Linked DNA regions of Homo sapiens. The protein of the gene in region 2 purifies or fractionates together with the protein of the main gene of each other region. This does not show direct contact. Each region holds a gene or a part of one and is shown on either strand. Other genes may lie near its edges.

Evidence for each region.
Region 1: the proteins of PCDHB8 (region 2) and CLEC4A purify together in Homo sapiens (co-immunoprecipitation; one large-scale study listed by IntAct). This does not show direct contact.

Annotation. Positions count from the first base shown.
Region 1 is NC_000012.12:8,136,362-8,139,107, reverse strand, and holds the end of CLEC4A (C-type lectin domain family 4 member A), read right to left. Parts: intron 2,321-2,746; coding exon 2,205-2,320; intron 969-2,204; coding exon 821-968; 3' UTR 501-820; downstream 1-500. UniProt on the Homo sapiens protein: C-type lectin receptor that binds carbohydrates mannose and fucose but also weakly interacts with N-acetylglucosamine (GlcNAc) in a Ca(2+)-dependent manner. Involved in regulating immune reactivity.
Region 2 is NC_000005.10:141,176,649-141,180,589, forward strand, and holds PCDHB8 (protocadherin beta-8 precursor), read left to right. Parts: upstream 1-1,141; 5' UTR 1,142-1,386; coding exon 1,387-3,792; 3' UTR 3,793-3,891; downstream 3,892-3,941. UniProt on the Homo sapiens protein: Calcium-dependent cell-adhesion protein involved in cells self-recognition and non-self discrimination. Thereby, it is involved in the establishment and maintenance of specific neuronal connections in the brain.

The DNA.
Region 1 (2,746 bases), on a different chromosome or scaffold from region 2:
AGTCAATCCATAGAAACAGAGGGTAAAATGATGGTTGTGAGGGAATGGAGGGCAGTGGAGAAAATCAGGCAATGTTGGTCAAAGGGTACAAATTTTCAGTTCTAAGATGACGAAGTTCTAGAGATCTAATGTGCTGGATGGTGACTATAGTTAATAATGATGCATTGCACACTTGAAATTTTTTGGGGAGTAGATCTTGCTTTGTGTTTGTTGATACCAATGGACAGAATGGAGTAGATCTTAAACGTTCTCACTACACACAAGATTGTTAACTATGTAAGATAATGGGTGTGGGTTAAGTAACTTGATTACGGTAATCATTTTACAATATATATGTATGTCAAATCACCACAGTGTAAACCTTAAATATATACAATTTTATTTGTCAGTGTATATATATATATTATAATATATATATAAAATATAATATATATATATGTCAGTATATATATACAATTATATATCAGTATAGTAGGGATGAAGAGAAAACCAGACAGGAGGAGACACCACATCATATAATTTTATTGGTAAATAATTCTTTAGCAACCAGATAAAAATTAAGAGAGACTCATGTTCTCTCCATGTGTGCACAATGGGGGCCTCCAGTACAGGCTCTGGCACATGAAAAAATGCTCAATAAATGCTCACTTTATGAAAAAGTGAATCAGTCAATGTACAGACCAATTCTCTCATAAGTAGAATAGTTGACAGACCACCTAAATTCTATGGACCTCCCTTACACATGAATAAGAAGAGCTTATTATCTATCCCTACAATGACAGATACCAATCCAACCACCTGTTCATGGAGAATGTTCAGTTCATAAGTGGATCTTCATCATCTCACAAACTGACCTTTGAGGACCAAGACAATTAACATCATTCCAGCCCCATCTTTTGGGTGATTTACGAAAATTTAGCACAACGCAGCGCTCATTGGGATCACTGGGCTCACGTGGATGCCAGAATCTGAAAGCGACAAAAAGGATGAGGGCATTTCTTCAAACAGAGCTTTGAAAAGGGTTAGAGACAGGGGTGAGGAGCGAGGGATGAATTTCATGGAACATAGGGTCAGATATGCCCAAATCCACCTTTCTGCTACTCATCATGCAGCTTCTCCTCCATCTGCATTTCCGGCATTTCCTTTGAAAACTGTGCCTATGTCACTCAATGTTCTCTACCTTACTGCTTTGAATATCCTCACCATAGATTTTCTAGAGGTTCTCTTCTATTTGTCCATCCTTATGTCCTGTTCCTATGGGTCCATCAACCTATAGGGTGTCCTTGTATGATGAAAAGATTTTACCCTGGTCCCACTTATCAATAGAGTTTTTTCCTTTTTTTAATGCACTGTTTTTAAAGTCTAGAGAACTAGTAAAATCTTTTGAATCTTCTACTTATCCTTGTTATTGGACAAGTAATTTAACTTCCCTGATTCTCAGTTTTTCTATCTAAAAAATAAGGACTAGAGTAATATCACTATTTATTTCATACAGTGGATATGAAGATCGAAGGTGGTAATCCAGTAAAGTATGTATTTTATGTAATTTATGTAATATATGTAAAGTATGTAATTTATGCAATTAAAGAATTACATAAATATGAGATATAAGATTATCAGAATTTAGCATTTTTGCTTCATAAGAAGCATTACATCTTCAGCCTGACTGGGTGTGGTGGCACATACTTGTCATCCTAGCAACTCAGAAGACTTGGGTGGGAGGATCAGTTGAGCCCAGGAATTCAAGGCTGCAGTGAGCCATGATTGCACCACTGCACTCCAGCCTGGTTGACAGAGTAAGACCCTGTCTCAAAAAAGAAAAAAAAAGCATTATTAAATCTTAATAATTGGTTATGATCTTAATCAACATGGGTTTTCACTATGTAGAGACAGGTAAATATACGGGTTAAAAGCACAGTAAGATCCACCTGATTTGAGAACAATTGTTGACACCACTGGGTGACCTTAGCTGAATTATCTACACTCTCCAAGCTCAATTTCCTCATATCTACAGTGGGAAAAATAACAATGTGTGCCTCATAGGGTTCTTGCGCAGATTAAATGAGATAATGAAATTATTTAACCTAGTACCCAAGAGCTAAAAGAAGAGTGAGCTATTTTACTTTTATAGCTGATAGCTAGAATACCCTAAGCTCTCTGCATGATCCAGGACCCAAGATTCTTTTATCTCATTCTATACTCACGTGGAACTTTCATTGTATGGTGTCTGATCAACCCATTGCCAATGTCGCTGACCTTCTGGATCTGAGAGCCCCACAAAATAAGCAGATTCTTCTTGCAGATTCTGGAAGATGAAATCCTGAGGGGGGAAAAGAAGGAGTCACAGCCTTTACAGTATTCAGCTTAAACTGAATTCTTAATACCTTAGAGAAACAAGAAGAAAAGGAGAGGATCCAGCAACAGCTGCATTAGAGCTCTACGTAGGAATGGGGATCTCTGGCTGAGCAGGGCAGAATCAAAGACATCGCTTGTAAGCATGATGTTCAGTACATACGGAAGGAATTTTTTTTTTTTTTTTTTTTTGAGATGGAGTCTCACTTTCTGTCCCAGGCTGGAGTGCAGTGGTGCAATCTTGGCTCACTGCACCTCTGCCTCCCAGGCTTAAGCGATTCTCATGCCTCAGCCTCCCCAGTAGCTGGGACTACAGGTGTGTGCCACCATGCCTGGCTAATTTTTGTATTTTTAGTAGAGGCTGGGTTTCACCATTTTGGCCAAGCTGGTCTTG
Region 2 (3,941 bases):
AGATCTTACGAGATCTACCAATCAAACGTAATGTGTGGATCTTGTCTGGATCTTCATTCAAACATCAGCAATGACTTTGAAACACTTGGAAGAGTTTGAATATAGATGGGTATTAAGTAATATTAACTGAATTTTTTAGGTATAATAATGGCATTGTACTTAAGGGTATTTTTAGAGTCACTTAAAGTTATTATGCATTTAAAGAAATGTACAATGAAGTATTTGTGGGTGAAAATTCAGTTTGTCTGGAACGTAAAGATGTTGGAGGGATAGCGTCAAGAATTATGGCAAGACATTGATAATAGTTGATGCTAGTACTGAGTAATTGCAGGTTAATTTTACTCCTCTCCTTTTATGAGATATGAAAAATATCAAAATAAAAGCTTTTTAAAATTGATGCTATTAGAAGAGAAATAGAGGTAACAAAAAAGGACACGCTTCCCCAGAAATAAAATCACCACTGCTGTTACACATTTTGTCTCTATTTAGACAAGCTCTCCAGCCTTTCCCTGTTTACCTTCACTGTTTGACATAACTTCTCTACCTGAGATAGTCATGTTCCTGTACTATTCTACCATGTAATTTTGAGGTGTTTTTCTAGTTATAGCAATGGATTTATGCAGAGTCACCTACCTGGTGGTATCAAATTGCCATATACCGGGTACATAGTTTATTTTTAAGCTTAATCTCTCTTTGAATCAGTTTCCTCATGTGTAAGGTGGGGAAATCACAACAGCCCTATGTGGTAGGTGCTATTATTATCCTCATTTTACAGATGAGGAAATTAAAGCAGAGAGATTAAATAATTTGTTCGAGGTTCACAGCTACTAATTATTCCTATGGTTCATGGAAATAAAACTATAAAGATCTAAATGTTGCCCATGTTAACTACTATTATATTTGAAATTCTTTTTGCCAAGCTAGACTGTTACCTAAATATTTCCTTTTTGCCCAAAACTCAGTTAGCATTGTTGAAAGACTAACGCAATTTCTCCTTCGGGCAGTTGTCTGCTCAGTAACGTCCGGCGATATTAACCGTGGTGTTGTAACTTTACATAGTCCCAGGGTACATACAGGCAGAGTTGGGAATATTACATCTATTATCATCCCACAAAATGTAAGATCCTGTGAGGACCCGTGGTGGCGCTGCAGGATAAGAAGGCACAAACCAGAACCGCAGCTGCAGCTCCATTAACCGGCAAAAAGCAGCAGAACCTGGAAGTCCACGGGGAGCTTGGATGCCAAAGGGAGGACGGCTGGGTCCTCTGGAGAGGACTACTCACTGGCATATTTCTGAGGTATCTGTAGAAAACCACAGCCTCAGATACTGGGGACTTTACAGTCCCACAGAACCGTCCTCCCAGGAAGCTGAATTCAGCAAGAACAATGGAGGCCAGCGGGAAGCTCATTTGCAGACAAAGGCAAGTCCTTTTTTCCTTTCTCCTTTTGGGCTTATCTCTGGCGGGCGCGGCGGAACCTAGAAGCTATTCTGTGGTGGAGGAAACTGAGGGCAGCTCCTTTGTCACCAATTTAGCAAAGGACCTGGGTCTGGAGCAGAGGGAATTCTCCAGGCGGGGGGTTAGGGTTGTTTCCAGAGGGAACAAACTACATTTGCAGCTCAATCAGGAGACCGCGGATTTGTTGCTAAATGAGAAATTGGACCGTGAGGATCTGTGCGGTCACACAGAGCCCTGTGTGCTACGTTTCCAAGTGTTGCTAGAGAGTCCCTTCGAGTTTTTTCAAGCTGAGCTGCAAGTAATAGACATAAACGACCACTCTCCAGTATTTCTGGACAAACAAATGTTGGTGAAAGTATCAGAGAGCAGTCCTCCTGGGACTGCGTTTCCTCTGAAGAATGCTGAAGACTTAGATATAGGCCAAAACAATATTGAGAACTATATAATCAGCCCCAACTCCTATTTTCGGGTCCTCACCCGCAAACGCAGTGATGGCAGGAAATACCCAGAGCTGGTGCTGGACAAAGCGCTGGACCGAGAGGAAGAAGCTGAGCTCAGGTTAACACTCACAGCACTGGATGGTGGCTCTCCGCCCAGATCTGGCACTGCTCAGGTCTACATTGAAGTTGTCGATGTCAATGATAATGCCCCTGAATTTGAGCAGCCTTTCTATAGGGTGCAGATCTCTGAGGACAGTCCAATAAGCTTCCTGGTTGTGAAGGTCTCTGCCACGGATGTAGACACAGGAGTCAACGGAGAGATTTCCTATTCACTTTTCCAAGCTTCAGATGAGATAAGCAAAACTTTTAAGGTCGATTTCTTGACAGGAGAAATTCGACTAAAGAAACAACTTGATTTCGAAAAATTTCAGTCCTATGAAGTCAATATCGAGGCGAGAGATGCTGGAGGCTTTTCTGGAAAATGCACCGTTCTGATTCAAGTGATAGATGTGAACGACCATGCCCCAGAAGTTACCATGTCTGCATTTACCAGCCCAATACCTGAGAATGCGCCTGAAACTGTGGTTGCACTTTTCAGTGTTTCAGACCTTGATTCAGGAGAAAATGGGAAAATAAGTTGCTCCATTCAGGAGGATCTACCCTTCCTCCTGAAATCTTCTGTGGGGAACTTTTACACCCTACTAACAGAGACACCACTAGACAGAGAAAGCAGAGCCGAGTACAACGTCACTATCACCGTCACTGACTTAGGGACACCCAGGCTGACAACACATCTCAATATGACCGTGCTGGTGTCGGACGTCAATGACAACGCCCCCGCCTTCACCCAAACCTCCTACACCCTGTTCGTCCGCGAGAACAACAGCCCCGCCCTGCACATCGGCAGCGTCAGCGCCACAGACAGAGACTCGGGCACCAACGCCCAGGTCACCTACTCGCTGCTGCCGCCCCAGGATCCGCACCTGCCCCTCGCCTCCCTGGTCTCCATCAACACAGACAACGGCCACCTGTTCGCCCTCAGGTCGCTGGACTACGAGGCCCTGCAGGCGTTCGAGTTCCGGGTGGGCGCTTCAGACCGCGGCTCCCCGGCTTTGAGCAGCGAGGCGCTGGTGCGCGTGCTGGTGCTGGACGCCAACGACAACTCGCCCTTCGTGCTGTACCCGCTGCAGAATGGCTCCGCGCCCTGCACCGAGCTGGTGCCCCGGGCGGCCGAGCCGGGCTACCTGGTGACCAAGGTGGTGGCGGTGGACGGCGACTCGGGCCAGAACGCCTGGCTGTCGTACCAGCTGCTCAAGGCCACGGAGCCCGGGCTGTTCGGTGTGTGGGCGCACAATGGCGAGGTGCGCACCGCCAGGCTGCTGAGCGAGCGCGACGCGGCCAAGCAGAGGCTGGTGGTGCTGGTCAAGGACAATGGCGAGCCTCCGTGCTCGGCCACCGCCACGCTGCACGTGCTCCTGGTGGACGGCTTCTCCCAGCCCTACCTGCCGCTTCCGGAGGCTGCCCCAGCCCAGGGCCAGGCCGACTCTCTCACCGTCTACCTGGTGGTGGCGTTGGCCTCGGTGTCTTCGCTCTTCCTCTTCTCGGTGCTCCTGTTCGTGGCGGTGCTGCTGTGTAGGAGGAGCAGGGCGGCCTCGGTGGGTCGCTGCTCAGTGCCTGAGGGCCCCTTTCCAGGGCATCTGGTGGACGTGAGGGGCACCGGGAGCCTGTCTCAGAACTATCAGTACGAGGTGTGCCTGGCAGGAGGCTCAGGGACGAATGAGTTCCAGCTCCTGAAACCAGTATTACCTAATATTCAGGGCCATTCTTTTGGGCCAGAAATGGAACAAAACTCTAACTTTAGGAATGGCTTTGGTTTCAGCCTTCAGTTAAAGTAATTGATTTCATATTATATATTTTAATTTTTATGATCAATTCAAAGGAATGGTTTTCTGTCAACTTAGCATAAATTTTAAATTACACTACATTTGCCCATAGTATTTGTCTTGTTTTCACTGTTTTAAAAAATGATATCTCATCTTCTCTT